Regions from separate parts of the Homo sapiens genome. Here region 2 is linked to region 1. Evidence: fine-mapped expression QTL. Tissue or cell type: sun-exposed skin. Region 1 holds a variant in brackets; the other region holds the start of a gene. All regions are shown on one strand. Distances are from middle to middle.

The links. PIP is the estimated chance that this variant, and not a neighbour inherited with it, causes the effect.
Region 2: MYL9 starts here. The variant in region 1 is fine-mapped to the expression of MYL9 in sun-exposed skin (GTEx, PIP 0.92).

The regions. Positions count from the first base shown.
Region 1 is chr20:36,612,864-36,620,963 of GRCh38, forward strand. It overlaps SLA2 (Src like adaptor 2), which reads right to left. Exons shown (of 8, transcript NM_032214.4): 6 at 2,362-2,511; 7 at 1,442-1,574; 8 at 1-1,123. The coding sequence ends at 1,003. It also overlaps the pseudogene HNRNPA3P2. Among named protein-coding and RNA genes, the nearest start is that of RAB5IF, 11 kb to the left of the region's middle. The variant C/T (reference allele first, on the strand shown) is at 3,660.
Region 2 is chr20:36,538,210-36,546,309 of GRCh38, forward strand. It overlaps MYL9 (myosin light chain 9), which reads left to right and starts at 3,310. Exons shown (of 4, transcript NM_006097.5): 1 at 3,310-3,352; 2 at 6,650-6,859. The coding sequence starts at 6,676. The region is part of intron 2 of DLGAP4-AS1 (DLGAP4 antisense RNA 1); the gene reads right to left. RefSeq lists a silencer at 3,131-3,330 and enhancers at 4,111-4,764, 4,765-5,418, 5,419-6,072, 6,073-6,726.

The DNA of each region.
Region 1 (8,100 bases):
CGGCCACAAGATGGCAAGGCCAGTGTGCTAGGGAATGGTAAGCCACAAAATGAAATAGAGATCTGAGAGCTAGGCTGGGTGCCGTGGCTCACACCTGTAATCCCAGCACTTTGGGAGGCCAAGGTGGGTGGATCACCTGAGGTCAGGAGTTCGACACCAGCCTGGCCAATGTGGTGAAACCCCATGTCTACTAAAAATACAAAAAAATTAGCCAGGCATGGTGGTGTACGCCTGTAATCCCAGCTATTCTGGAGGCTGAGGCAGGAGAATTGTTTGAATCCAGGAGATGGAGGTTGCAGTGAGCTGAGATCGTGCCATTGCACTCCAGCATGGGCAACAGGGCAAGACTCCGTCTCAAAAAAAAGAAAAAGAGCTGGGGCTGTTGTCCTCAATGGGGGACATTTGAGGACCTAGACTGTCCGAAGTCTTTCTCTTTGCTCTGGAGGTCACATAGAGCCTGGACCATCCAAGATCTGCTGCTACGGTAAGACATCATCTCAGCTTTCCTTTCCCTTCTAGGCCACAGTCCTACCTTCTGAGGTATGGTGGTGGTCTCAACGAGACTTGTAGATTTTCTGAAAATGACTTTCTCGTTGACTCTAGGGGTTGTTTCTACCTTGTGGGTGGGGCCTGGTTAATGGTGGGGATGTAGAATGGGGCTCAACAGGCAGGGCATCCAGATGGTACTGGAAACCCCAAACTCAAGAACTAACTAGGTCAGACCCCCCAGGAGGCTTATTCTCTTTTTGGAACCCTGGCCCTGGTCCCACCTTCTCTGCACTCGCACTAGAGGTCGCAGGTGGGATCATGGCACTGGAAGGAAGTAGGTGACTTCTAAGGGCTAAGAGAGGAAAGAGCAAGGGTACAGGTGGGACCCTAGATGCACCTCTGTGTCCCACCCTCCCTCCCTGAGTGCACAGCCTTGCCTCTGGGGTGCCCAGGAGGCTGAATTGGGGTTCTAGGTGTGCAGCCTTGGTTTCCCTTTTGGCCTCTCCTTTGGGCCTAGGCATCATCCAAAGAGACAGCCTCGTCATTCAGGCTGATGTAGAAGCTGAGGGACTCCCGGAGACCCTCACTGAGAAGAGACTCCTCCCCTGTGGCAGCTTCAGAAAACAGGAGGGAGCTGTGGACAAAGGAAGATAATTGGGTCAAGAAGCCTCTTCCTCCTCCCTGTACTCACTACACACAAAATTGCACTGTTCTCAAAACCCTTCACTCCTGCTGAGGACCTCATGGGGCTCCCCTGTTCCCTATCAGATCAGCTTCCCCAGCCCCACCTGTCGAGCCTGGGCCGTGCTCCAGGAGTTGAGTCAGTGCACTCTGGCTCCAGCTGCCAGGTGTCCCTGAGTGTGACAGGTACATTCCGGGTTGTGGCTTCCCAGGGGTGGGTCCTTCTAACTCTTGGTCCTGCTTTCATGTTTCCAGGAGTCCCCAACTTTACCTGTCCAGCTCTTTCCAGTTGAGTGGTGTCCTCTGCACAGTCACAGGTAGGGGTATATCCTTGCCAGGGAGCGGGCCAGCCCTCTGCAGGACACAGGGCTCCTTGAGTAGGCAGCAGATGTCATCCGCCAGCTCTGAGGAAGAGACCTCCATCCCTGACATGACTGACTCCACCCTACTTCTCCCCAACAGCCCTCACCCTGACAGCCCTCTGCAGTTGGCAGGAGGGGGCATGGTTACCAAAGAGTGATAGGACATGAGCCCCAAGCTATTGGTTTCATGGAGACAGATGTAGTCAAAGGTCTTTCTGGGCTAACTTTTGGGAGACAGTCACTGTATGATTTAGGGTGAGTTCATGGACCTCTTGAGCTCAAGTTTCTGGTTAGGAAATTGCTTTGGGAAGAAGAAAGCTAAGGAATGCTCAGTCTACTTCTACTCACTGTCTACTTCCACACAGAGTGACCTGCAGAAAACCCCTAATGAGTTTTCACAAGAGTGCTCTTCCCTCTCTGCCCCCTGACGCTGTGCCCAGTGACTGCATCTTCCAGTGTCTGTTGAAGGACAGGCACCAGGAAGTACTAAGGAGAGTCAGGATTGAATCCCACACAGCAGCAGCTCTGTGCCCGGTTCCTGTGGAGAGAACTCTGCCTGCTGCCAGGGGCTCTGAGTCAGAACCAGAGTGGTAGGCAAGGTACTGACCTGAGCCTACACAGGAGGTCTGTGGCTTTTCTGCCAGGGCACGAGGTGAAGACAGGGCTCCCAGCCTGCATTTCTTGGCATAGGGACTGGCGTGAAAATAGGGGAGGCCGCTCTTCTGTCTGTCTGAATACTCCACAGTAGGTAAAATATCCAAGGGCACCACTGCCTGCTCCTCCCCACAGACTATCCCAGCCTAGTCCTGGAGGCAGGGAAAGGCCATACCAGAGTAATGGTCCACCAGGGCCTGGAGTGAGGGGAAGGTGAGGCGCGGTGAGATGTACAGCCAGCCATTGTCAAGGCAGTGGATCCTGTAGTGTCTGATCCGGTCCCAGGATGCAGGGCGGCTGAGGCGGACTGACAGAGAGTAAGAGCCTGAGGAGAAAGGGGTCCAGGGGTGGCACTGAGGCCCTGCTGGGACTCGGCCCCACCTAGGCTGGGAAACGAAGATAGGCAACGTGACCATGGGGCCCCGGCAGAAGGGAAGTGTCTGGGGCAGAAGCAGGACAAAGACTTGCTCTCTTGGTCATCAATAATATGTTCATAATAGATGGGGGTCTTGTGAGGGTGAAATCAAATCACACACAGAGCCCTCAGTACAGGGTCTGGCACTGTGTGAGTGAACATTCAGCGTTGGCTGTTCTTACAAAGACTCAGGTGGCAGATATGTTAGGATGCAAAAACACTGTCAAGAAGATGCTGGCAAGGAAGTGGAGAAGTAGGACCTCCCACCCTGCTGGTGGAAGAGAAATTAGTACGAGCCACCTTGGAAACAGTTTGGCATTAACTAGATGAGCTGAACATGCACGTACCTTACAACCCAGCAGTTCTTCCCAGGCACAATACCTCAGAAGCACACAAGCAATATGCACAGCGGCATTGTTTGTAAAAGTCAAAAACGGCAAACAGCCCGTTTGTGCTCAAGAGTAGAATAAATTGTGGATTATAGAGTGTAGTGCTATACAGCAGTAAAAATTAATAACTGCTACATATAAGCATAAGGAAATCTTGGAAATTAAGCAGAAAAACATTACAGAGCATACATTCAGCCTGATTCTATTTAAAGTTCAAAGATAGCCAACATGACATTATATGTTGCACAGGCACACACGGCAAAGCTCTGAAGAAAAGCAACTGAATGATTAACACAGTGAAGCATGAGAGGGGGCTACAAAGGGCTTGTTAGGTAATTTCAGCTGGCAAGTGGGCGCGTGGATGTCAGTTTTATTAGTGCTGCTCAACCTACATGTATACATTACATACACTGATGAATGACAGTTTCACCAGCTTTGCATGTTTCATTTTTTCATTTTTTTTTTTTATTTTAATTTTCTTTTTTTTTTTTTTTGGAGACAGAGTCTCCCTCTGTTGCCCAGGCTGGAGTGCAGTGGTGCAATCTCGGCTCACTGCAACCTCCGCCTCCTGGGTTGAAGTGATTCCCCCGCCTCAGCCTCCCGAGTAGCTGGGACTACAGGCGCCTGCCACCACCACGCCCGGCTAATTTTTTGTATTTTTGGTAGAGA[C/T]AGGGTTTCACCATATTTGCCAGGCTGGTCTCGAACTCTTGACCTCGTGATCCGCCTGCCTCAGCCTCCCAAAGTGCTGGGATTACAGGCATGAGCCACCGCGCCCAGCCAGATTTTAATTTATTTTTAGAGCCATGCTCTCGCTCTGTTGCCCAGATGGCGTGCAGTGGCATGATCACAGCTCCTGGGCTCAAACAGTCCTCTTGCCTCAGCCTCCTGAGTACTTGGAATTATAGGCGTGAACCACCCCGTGCCTGGCCATATAAGCACATTTAAAATATTAAAACAGGCTAGGGGCAGTGGCTCACGCCTGTAATCCCAGTTCGAGACCACCCTGGCCAACGTGGTGAAACCCCATCTCTACTAAAAATACCAAAGTTAGCTGGGTGTGGTGGTGCACACCTGTAGTCCGAGCTACTTGGAAGGCTAAGGCAGGAGAATCACTTGAACCCAGGAGGCAGAGGTTGCAGTGAGCCGAGATTGTGCCACTGCAGTCCAGCCTTGGCAACAGAGCAAGACTCTATAAATAAATAAATAAAAAACCCAAGGCCGGGGACGGGTGCAGTGGCTCACGCCTGTAATCCCGGCACTTTGGGAGGCCGAGGTGGGCGGATCACCTGAGGTCAGGAGCTCAAGAACAGCCTGACCAATGTGGCGAAACCCTGCCTCTACTAAAAATACAAAAAAAAAAAAAATTAGCCAGGTGTGGTGGTGTGCGCCTGTAGTCCCAGCTACTTGGGAGGTTGAGGCAGGAGAATTGCTTGAACGCAGGAGACAGGTTGCAGTGAGCCGAGATCACACCACTGCACTACAGCCTGGGCAACAGAGCGAGACTCCATCTCAATTAAAAAAATAAATAAACAAGGCTGGGCAGAGTGGCTCATGCCTGTAGTCCCAGCTACTCTGAAGGCTGAGGCAGGGGGATTGCTTGAGCCCGGGAGGTGAAGGTTGCGGTGAGCCAAGATTGTGCCACTGCACTCCAGTCTGGATGACAGAGTGAGACCCTGTCTCAAAAAAAAAAAAAAAAAAAAAAAATTAAAACAAAAGTTAATGGGCCGGGCGCGGTGGCTCACGCCTATAATCCCAGCACTTTGGGAGGCCAAGGCAGGCGGATCACAAGGTCAGGAGATCAAGACCAGCCTGGCTAACACAGTGAAACCCCATCTCTACTGAAAATACAAAAAATTAGCCAGGCGTGGTGGCGTGCGCCTGTAATCCCAGCTACTCAGGAGGCTGAGGCAGGAGACTCGCTTGAACCCAGGAGGCAGAGGTTGCAGTGAGCCGAGATCAGCCACTGCACTACAGCCCGGGCGACAGAGTGAGACTCCGTCTCAAAAAAATTAGTCCAGGCGCAGTGGCTCAAGCCTGTAATCCCAGCACTTTGAGAGGCTGAGGCAGGCAGATCACGAGGTCAGGAGATCAAGATCATCCTGGCTAACACGGTGAAACCCTGGCTCTACTAAAAATATAAAAAATTAGCCGGGCGTGGTGGCGGGCGCCTGTAGTCCCAGCTACTCGGGAGGCTGAGGCAGGAGAATGGCGTGAACCCAGGAGGCAGAGGTTGCAGTGAGGCGAGATCGTGCCACTGCACTCCAGCCTGGGTGACAGAGCGAGACTCCGTCTCAAAAAAAAAAAAAAAGGCTAAAAGTAAAAAGATGGAAAAAAGATATATCATGCAGACAACCATAAGTAAGCTAGAATGGCTTATTAATGGGAGAATGTTAGTGGGATATTAATATCAGACAATAGAATTCAAAAGACTGGAGTGCAGTGGCATGATCTTGACTCACCACAACCTCCGCCTTTCAGGTTCAGGTGATTCTCCTGCCTCAGCTTCCCAAGTAGCTGGGACTACAGGCACGTGCCACCATGCCCGGCTATTTTTTTGTTTTTTTAGTAGAGATGGGGTTTCACTATGTTGGCCAGGTTGGTCTTGAACTCCTGACCTTGTGATCTGCCCACCTTGGCCTCTCAAAGTGCTGGGTTTACAGCTGTGAGCCACTGTGCCCGGCCAACAAATTTAAAAGGATTGAAATCATTAAAAATATGTTGTCTGGCCACAATGGAATTAAATTAGAAATTAATAAGGAAAAGGTATCTAGGCTGGGCGCAGTGGCTCAAGCCTGTAATCCCAGCACTTTGGGAGGCAGAGGCTGTTGGATCACCTGAGGTCAGGAGTTCAAGACCAGCCTGACCAACAAGGCAGCCTGACCATCTGTACTAAAAATATAAAATTAGCTAGGTATGGTGGCACATGCCTATAAATCCCAGCTACTTGAGAGGCTGAGGCAGGAGAATTGCTTGAACCCAGGCAGCGGAGATTGCAGTGAGCCGAGATTGTACCATTTCACTACAGCCTAGGGAACAAGAGTGAACTCCATCTCAAAAAAAAAAAAAAAAAAAAAAAAAAAAGTATCTAGAAGCCAGGTTTGGTGGCTCACGCCTGTAATCCCAACACTTTGGGAGGTTGAGGTGGGCAGATCATTTGAGGTCGAGAGATTGAGATGCGTCTGACTAACATGGTGAAACTCCATCTCTACAAAAAATACAAAAAAATTAGCCAGGCTTGGTGCCAGTAATTCCAGCTACTTGGGAGGCTGAAGCAAGAGAATTGCTTGAACCTGTGAGGTGGAGGTTGCAGTAAGCTGAGATCACGCCACTGCACTCCAGCTTGGGCAATGGAGTGAGACTCTGGGGGAAAAAAAAAAAAAAAAAAAAAAAGGCTGGGTGCGGTGGCTCACACCTGTAATCCTAGCACTTTGGGAGGCTAAGGTGGGTGGATCACCTGAGGTAAGGAGTTCAAGACCAGCCTGGCCAACATGGTGAAACCCCATCTCTACTAAAAATACAAAAATTAGCCAGGCATGGTGGCACACGCCTGTAATCCCAGCTACTTGGGAGACTGAGGCAGGAGGATTGCTTGAACCTGGGAGCAGGAGGTTGCAGTGAGCCAAGATCACGCCACTGCACTCCAGCCTGGGCAATATAGCAAGACTCTGTGTCAAAAAAAAAATTGGAGAGACTGAAGTGGGAGGGTCACTTGAGGCTAAGAATTAAAGACCAGCCTGGTCAACATAGAGACCCCCTTCCCATGTCTGTACAAATTTTTTTCTTTTTTTTTTTTTTGAGACAGAGTCTCGCTCTCTCACCCAGGCTGGAGTGCAGTGGCGCCATCTCGGCTCACTGCAAGCTCTGCCTCCTGGGTTCACGCCATTCTCCTGTCTCAGCCTCCCAAATAGCTGGGACTACAGGTGCCTGTCACCACACGTGGCTATTTTTTTTTGTATTTTTAGTAGAAACGGGGTTTCACCATGTTAGCCAGGATGGTCTCGATCTCCTGACCTTGTGATCCACCTGTCTCGGCCTCCCAAAGTGCTGGGATTACAGGTGTGAGCCACCGTGCCTGGCCAAAAAAAAATTTTTTTTTAATTAACCAGGTGTGGTGGTGTGAGCCGATAGTCACAGCTACTCAGGAGGCTGAGGCAGGAGAATCACATGAACCCAGGAGGCAGAGGCAATTATTATGCCACTGCACTCCAGCCTGGGCGACAGAGCGAGATTCCACCTCAAGAAAAAATAAAAACAATGCTGGGCGCGATGGCTCACACCTGTAATCCCAGCACTTTGGGAGGCCGAGGCGGGCAGATCACGAGGTCAGGAGTTCAAGACCAGCCTGGCTAACATGGTGAAACCCCATCTCTACTAAAAATACAAAAATTAGCTGAGCGTGGTGGTGGGCGCCTGTAATCCAGCTACTCAGGGAGCTAAGAATCACTTGAACCGAGGAGGCAGAGGTTGCAGTGAGCCGAGATTGCGCCACTGTACTCCAGCCTGGGCAACAGAGCTTGACTCTGTCTCAAAAAAATAAAATAAATAAAATAAAGAAGATACAGAAGAATATAATTTGAGAGACCTCTGAAAAGTATGGCAAGATTAAAACCATAGAAGTTATGGAAGACAAGCAGAGTCGAAAAAAGGATTTGCTTTTGTAACTTGATGATCAAGATATAGTTTTTAAAATTGTTCAGAAATACCACACTGGCTTTTTTTTTTTTTTTTTTTTTTGAGACAGAGTCTCCGTCTGTTGCCCAGGCTGGAGTACAGTGGTGAAATCTAGGTTTACTACACCCTCCGCTTCCCAGGTTCAAGGGATTCTCCTGCCTCAGCCTCCTGAGTAGCTGGGATTACAGGTGTGCACCACCAAGCCTGGCTAATTTTTGCATTTTTAGTAGAGACAGGGTTTCACCTTGTTGGTCAGGCTGGTCTCGAACTCCTGACCTCGTGATCCACCCGCCTAGGCCTCCCAAAGTGCTGGGATTACAGGTGCGAGCCACCACGCCCAGCCAGAAATACCACACTGTTAATGGGCATAATGGTGAAGTGAAAAAGGCCCTTACTAAATAACAGAGGTAGCCTGCTGGATGGTAAGTAGTCGTGGAGG
Region 2 (8,100 bases), 75 kb before region 1:
AGTGAGTCTCCTGCCTCAGCCTCCCGAGTAGTTGGGATTACAGGCGTGTACAACCACACCTGGCTAATTTTTGTATTTTTCGTAGAGAACAAGATTTCACCATGCTGGCCAGGCTTGTCTCAAATTCCTGGCATCAAGTGATCCACCTGTCTAGGCCTCCCAAAGTGCTAGGATTACAGGCAAGAGCAACCACACCAGGCCCCTTGTACACTGTTGATGGGAATTTAAAATGGTACAGCCACTACAGAAAACAGTTATTGCAGTTCCTCGGAATGTTAAAAATAGAATAACCATTTGATCCAGCAATTCCATTTCTGGGCACATACCCAAAAGAATTGAAAACAGAGACTTATATGTTCACAATGTCAGGTTAAAAAAACAATAGCAGGAACTTGAAGAGACCCATGTTCACTGAAGCATTATTCAGAATAGCCAAAAAGTGGAAGCAACCCAAGTGTCCATCCATGATGAGTAGATAAACAAACTATGCAAACAATGGAATATTATTCAGCCTTAAAAAGGACGAGAGCCTGGGCAACATGGCAAAATCCCACTTCTACAAAAAGAATTTTTTAAAAAATTAGCCGGGGCCAAGCACAGTGGCTCAGGCCTATAATCCCAGCACTTTGGGAGGTCCAGGCAGGACGACTGCTTGAGGCTAGAAGTTTGAGACCAGGCTGGGCAACACAGGGAGACCCTGTTTCTACAAAAGTAGAAAACTTAGCCAGGTGTGGGCCGGGCGCAGTGGCTCACATCTGTAATCCCAGCACTTTGGGAGGCTGAGGCGGGCAGATAATGAGGTCAGGAGATCGAGACCATCCTGACTAACACGGTGAAACCCCGTCTCTACTAAACATACAAAAAAAAAAAATTAGCCGGGCATGGTGGCGGGCGCCTGTAGTCCCAGCTACTCGGAAGGCTGAGGCAGGAGAATGGCATGAACCCGGGAGGCAGAGCTTGCAGTGAGCCGAGATCGCGCCACTGGACTCCAGCCTGGGTGACAGAGCGAGACTCCGTTTCAAAAAAAAAAAAGAAAACTTAGCCGGGTGTGCTGGTGCATGCTTGCAGCCCTAGCTACTTGAGGGGGTCAAAGCAGGGGGATTGCTTGAGCCCAGGAGGTCAAGGCTGCAGTGAGCTATAATTGTGCCACTGCATGCCACCCACGGCGACAGAGTGAGACCCTATCTCAACCCCCCACCCCCAAAAAGAAATTCTGATATACACTAAACATGGATGAACCTGGGGCTTGAGGACATTATGCTGGGTGAAATAAGCCAGTGACAAAAGGTCGAATGCTATATGATTCCACTTACATGAGGCCCCAATAAGTAGATAAACTCACAGAAAACAGAAAGATGAATGATGACTGCCAGGGGCGGGGAGAAGGGGGCAAGGTGGAGTTAGTGTTTAACTGGCAGGGAGTTTCGGCTGAGGAAGATGAAAGTGCTCTGGAGATGGATGGTGGTGATGGTTGCAAAACAAAGTGAATATACTTAATGCCACCAAACTATACACTTAAAAATGCTGAAAATGGCATGAACCTGGGAGGCGGAGCTTGCAGTCAGCTGAGATGGCGCCACTGCACTCCAGCCTGGGCGACAGAGGGAGACTCCATCTCAAAAAAAAAAAAAAAAAAAAAAACACGCTGAAAATGGTAATTTTATGTTATGTATATTTTACCACAATCAAAAAATAAAATGTAAAACTGGGACACTGAAGAAATGTGATGACAAATGATCTTACTTTGGCTCCTAGACCAGAAAAAATTCCTCTAAAGGACATTATTGGGATAACTGGCACAACCTGAATATGGACTGTAAATTAGGTAATTAAATCAATGTGAAAATTGTCCTGACTTTTATCATTGTACTATGCATATTTAAGAGAATCTCCTTTTTAGGAGGTACTCACTGAAACATGTAGAGATAACAGGACATACGTATGCAAGAAACTCTCAAATGGTTGGGGGTAGGAATAAATAAATATAAATGTATGTACATGTATTATATATATGTATATGTATATGGAAAGCAAGAAGAAAATATAATAAAACCCAATGGTAACAAATGGAGAATCTAGATGAAGCTATACAGGGTTCTTTGCACAGTTCTTCTAACTTTATCCTAAGTCTGAAATCATTTCAAAATAAAGTTTTTAAAAATTAATCTGTCCAAAATAGAGTTTCTTATCCCCAAACTGCTCCACACAGCAAACCCATCATAGAAAATGGCAGCTCTTTCTCGTTGCTCACATCAAAACTCTGAGAGTCCACCCTAACTCTTTTCTTTCACACCCATTCCCATGCCCCAGCAGATCCTACCGGCTGCACCTCGGAAATAGTTTTAGCACTTGTCCCTCGGCCTCCCCGCTAGTCCGGATCAGCCTGATCCTTGCTGGGTCGCTCCTCACAGGTCCCCTGCTCGTGGACTCGGCCCCCTCTGCGCTATTTTCAACACATCACCCAGAAGGATTCCGTCAAAACCCAAGCCAGGTCGTCACCCCCTGCTCGGAACCCTCCGACACCCCACATGGCCTACAGGGAGCCACAGAGGGGTCCCTGCTGCTTCTCAGCCCCTCCGGCTCCCGCCCCCATCCTCCTGACCTCCTGCTGCCGGCGACCCCAAGCCCGGGAGCCCTCACGGCGGGGCGCACCCCTGCACCTCCTGTCTGCCCAATGTCACTGCCCAGAGCACCCTGCGGAACAGCCCACGCTCCCCCCAGGTCCCCTTCTCCTTTGAGGCCCCAGGCCGCGGAGCTACTTGTTCATCGTGTTTCCCTCCACGAAACCAGTGCTTCCCGAGTGGTTCCTTCAACCCCGCTCTGGCGGGCGACCGCTGATGTGGACAGAGCGAGTCACCGGGCGTAGGGGTCCCTGGGAGCCCCCCCACCCACCGCCTCTGCCCTCCCCACGTCGAGAGCCGTTGCCCGTCAGGGGAAGCTGCACTCCCACGGCCCATACAAGTGGGAGGCCTCTGGGGAAGCGGCCCTGGACATTCCGTTTGCCTCTCTGGAGGGGAAGGGGTGGCCCAGAGCGAACCCCCACACCCCCTCTCCCATTGCCTGCTCACCCCATCACCTCCCCTCCCTACAAGGCCCTCTGTGCAGCCCGGGCTGGCACAGCAAGGAAGGGGGGCTCACCCCAGAGCGCCCCCGCCTGCCAGCCCGTGGGTCGAGGCCAAATAAGGCCGGACGGCAGCCGAGGGCCCCCGCACCCCGCCCGCGGCCCCGCCCCGCGCACATTCTTCTGCCTTGTAAGGCCCGGCCGCCACGCCCCGCCCCCGCCTGGAGTCCAGACCCGACGGCCGGCCCAGTTCCACGCACCCAGCGAGCCCAAGCGCCTTCTCCGCACCAGGTGGGATCCGGGGCCCCGGGGGTCTTGAGGACAGGCCTAACGGCCCAGGGCTGGAGATGAGAGGTGGCCCGGGCCCGACCCGGCTGTCACGGGGGGCAAAGGCGGGCCCCACGGACTGGGACGTGGTAGGGTCTGTTGGGCACGGACTGAGGGGTGAGCTGGGGCAGCGAGTTTGCTGGGGGCCGACAGGGACTCTGGCCAGGGGCCGGGCAGCAGGAAGGCTGTTCTGGCCTCTGAGAAGCAGTGGTCCTGCGGCAAGGGAAGGCCATCGTCCAGGCCCTGCCCCTTTGCTGAGGAGCTGGAGATGCCAAGCCCAGAGCTCCGGGGGGGGCTGGGGAGCCCGGGTACAAGGGTGCTGGGGAGAGGGTTGCAGTCGTCAGTTCCCCCTGGCCCAGTAAAGGCATGTGTGTCACAGATGGAGAAACAGCCCTGTGGGACTCCACGCCCCCACAGCATCTGTGTCCCCTCCCCATCTCCCATCCCTACACCCTGGGCCAGGGGAAAGGGACCGAGACCAGGGGGCCCTTCCGACACAGCCAGTGCTGTATGCAGGGACCCGGGCCTTCCCCTCTCTGGGTCATCTCGCCTGTGGGTGGGGAAGGTCTGCGGAGGGCCCTGATGGACTCACCCCTAGGGGGCAGGACGAGGACTAGTGGCTGGGAGAACCTGATCCCTGCTCTTCCCAGCCCTCCAGCTGCTCTAAGGAGGAGACTCAGATGAGGTGCACTGAGAAGGAGGCATCTGGCCTGCCCAGCTCCAGGGGCTGGAGGTCATGGGGGCACTGCCCTGTGCTGGCTTCAGCCCAGCCTTTTCTGTTATGGTGGGAATCTGGACACCAGGATGGGGGACATGGCATCCAGTCACATCCAGGCCAAGTATCAGTGCTGACCCCTGGTGTCTAGGGCACCTGAAGGGGGAAGCGATGGCCTCAGAACTAAAGGCCCCACCCATGCCTGCCCCTCGCCCCTCCACCAGTTCTAGAAGGCGCCTCTGGATACACAGAGCCCTTTCCCACTCCACTGCCACAGGCCCGCCTGAGGACTGGGGCTCCCTGTTTTGTTCAAGCCTCGAGGGCACCAGCAGCCAAGTTTGCTCTCCACTGACCCAAACCTAGCCCAGGAATCCTGTCTTCCAGGTGGCCCCTCCCCCTCTCATGGGCACTCCACTCCCCTTCTGGGGCCTCTTTTCCTAGCTGCACCATGGGGGCACCCCTGCCTCCGCTCACCACTTCCCACAATTGCTGGGGTGGACATGGCGGCCTTGTGCAAGCCCTTAAGTACAGTGCTCCCAGCCACACCACAGCAGAGAGTGCAGACCGGGTGGCCATGAAGGCAGAGGGGCCCAGCTGGGCTCAGACCCAGCTGTGGGTGGCCTGGCCATGCCTGCCCTAGAGCTTCATAGAGTGTGGTGGGGACAGTGATGGCCATCACAGCCTCTGTTGGGCACAGTGCACTGCCTCTCTGCATGCAGCCTTCTGTGGGCACCAGGAGTCAAAGTTCCCGAGAACACTGGACTCAGGGAAGGACTAGGCCCCTCTAAAGCACGGGAGAGGAGGGGGCCGGCATCTGGGGACAATGGCACTCCCAACTAGGTCATGGGTGAGAAGGAATTCTGTCTACCTTCCTGAACCATGCAAGAAACACTGAGGGCTGGGTGTGTCGGTCCGTGGGACACGGGCAACCACTGTCTCATGACTACAGGCAGTGATGGCCCTGGGGACCAGCTGGGGCTGGCCGGGATCCCAGTCCAGGGTTGATGATCTCAAAGGCCAAGGACCGAGAATGACTTCAACAGAGTCATGGGAGGAAGGCCTGGAAACAGCTCAAGTTGCAACCACACAGCTTGGGGTGAACAACAGGCAGAGGAGGCTTCCTGGAGGCCCTGGGCCCGGGGGTTTGGGCAGAGGGAAGAGGGGCCGCAGTCCTGGAACCTCAGCCAGGCCCACTGCCCCAGCCGAGGGAAGGAGGCACTGGGTCTTCAGGCGCATATCCCCACAAGCTGTGGCAAGCATTCAGGGAAACAGTCCCAGGCCTGGTCTCAGTTTCCCCATCTGTACAGTAGAAGCAGCAGACTGGCCGTAGTTGCCTTCATATAGTCATTCATCAAACAAGCATCTGTTAGCCCAACTATGGCCTGGGATTGGTGTAAACTGGGGGATCTATGCTGGCCCACAAGGGAGAGAGATCTTTAAGTGTTTACTGTGGAAGCAAGGGTACAGGGAACAGCTCCCTAGGAGAGGGGGGCGGTCTCAAGAACTGGGCTGGAGAAGAAAGAGCACAGGGGAGGAGGGGACCACAGAGGAAAGCCTGGGAGTGTCCAGGGAACTGCAGAGGTCAGAAGGGTAGGATTGTGGGTCACAAGAGGGACACCACGAGGGCTGTCAGAGAGGCCAGGAGGGACTCACACAGGGCCTTGAATGCCAGGATGAGGGACCCAGACTTGCTCTGAGGGGCGGCAGGAACCTTCAAGGGCTTCACAATGATAGGTGTAGGTCAGGGTCTGTATGGGACAGAAGAGGCCGGCTGGAGGCTAAGAAGCCAGGTCTAAGCAAGGGTGAAGAAGCTGGGGTTCTCAGCCCAAGCAAGCCTCACACCCCGATAAGCAGTGGGGAGTGAGAACAAGGAGTGGGACCCAGGATCAGTCTGTGACCACTCACCACTGGGGGGCTGGTCAAGCTCCCTGAGGTGGACAGGCGGGGGTTTGACTGCCCAGAGCCTCCTAGAACCTCAGGCGGGCAGCAGAGGGATGGAGTGGGAGAGTGAGGAACGGCAGGAATGCAGGAATGCTGATCCAGCTCCTTCCTGCAGGGCCAGGGAGCCTGGATGGCAGCCCAGGAGAGCCCTCACTGACTCCCACGAGTGGACCCACCTTGTCACTTGGAAAGAGAGAGGGACAGTGTAAATGCTATTAAGGATTAAAGGAGATAAAGCATGGTAATGGTTGGCACCAAGCCCAATCCTAAGTGTTTTACCCAAACAGTCACAGCCAAAATAGCTGATTCCATGCCCGGCACTGTTCCAGGAGCTCTCGGGCACTGAGTCAGTTAATCCCTACTGCTGGGCACTCCTCATGTCTCCAGTCCCAGATGAAGACTCTCGGGCTCAGAGAGGTAGAGGAAGTTGTTCAGAATCACACAGCCACACTTGTCTGCTTTTGTGAAGAACTGGGTGGTGGGAGCCCCAAATCCGTGGGCAGCCTTGAATGCCAGGCCGAAGTGCTAAAAGCCAGTCTGGGGGAGGCAGGAAGATTCCCTGGCCCAGAGTCACAGGGCCACCCAACCCCCACCCCTTCCTGCAGGGAAGCCCCACCCACCAGAAGCCAAGATGTCCAGCAAGCGGGCCAAAGCCAAGACCACCAAGAAGCGGCCACAGCGGGCCACATCCAATGTCTTCGCAATGTTTGACCAGTCCCAGATCCAGGAGTTTAAGGAGGCTTTCAACATGATTGACCAGAACCGTGATGGCTTCATTGACAAGGAGGACCTGCACGACATGCTGGCCTCGCTGGGTGAGCTGGGACAGGGACAGGGGTGAGATGGATGAGGCCAGGCAGGCTCTGCCAATCATTTACAGGGCACCTCCTGTGTAGTGAGACGCGTGGTGTCCACCTTAGAGAATAGTTGCCATTAACTTAGTCCATTCAACAGGGAAACTGGGCCGGGCGCGGTGGCTCACGCCTGTAATCCCAGCACTTTGGGAGGCCAAGGCGGGCGGATCAATAGGTCAGGAGATCGAGACCATCCTGGCTAACACGGTGAAACCCTGACTCTACTAAAAATACCAAAAATTAGCCGAGCGTGGTGGCGGGCGCCTGTAGTCCCAGCTACTTGGGAGGCTGAGGCAGGAGAATGGCGTGAACCCGGAAAGCGGAGGTTGCAGTGAGCCGAGATCGCCCCACTGCACTCCAGCCTGGGCAACAGAGCGAGACTCCATCTCAAAAAAAAAAAAAAAAACAGGGAAACTGAAGCACAAAGCAGGTCCACCACAGGGTCTGAACGTAGACAGGCTGACTCCACAGTGGGCCTGTCTTAGGCAGATTTGTGCACTGGGCTGCCAGGTATCATTTCATTTAAAGAAAGGGGTCAGCTGGCCAGGCGCTGTGGCTCACGCCTGTAATCCCAGCATTTTGGGAGGCCAAGGCGGGCGGATCACGAGGTCAGAAGATCGAGATCATCCTGGCTAACATGGTGAAACCCCGTCTCTACTAAAAATACAAAAATTAGCTGGGCGTGGTGGCGGGCGCCAGCTACTCGGGAGGCTGAGGCAGGAGAATGGTGTGAACCTGGGAGGCGGAGTTTGCAGTGAGCCAAGATCACGCCACTGCACTCCAGCCTGGGCGACAGAGCAAGACTCCGTCTCAAAACAGAAAGAAAGGAAAGAAAGAGGTCAGCATCTAAATGAAAGTGTGAACTGCAGGCTGCCCACTGCACAGATGGGGAAACTGAGGCCTAGAGGGGCGGCCAGACCAGCTCCCCTCCTTCAGAGGTCACCCATCTCAGGCTCTCATAGCCTCTCTGGTCCCAGTGACTTCCTCAGGATCAGGACCTTAGAACTAACAGGGTACAAAAATCAAGTCCAATTCTCTACTGCAGATGGGGAAACACAGGCCCAGAGGCAAGGCCTCCACAGACCATGCCCCAACCCACGGGCCTGCCCCAACATCCCTCCCAAAGTGCTGGCCACAGCCAGCCACTCTCAGCCCAGTTCCCGCGTACCCCTCATGCCGAGTGACAGCATCCAGACCAGACA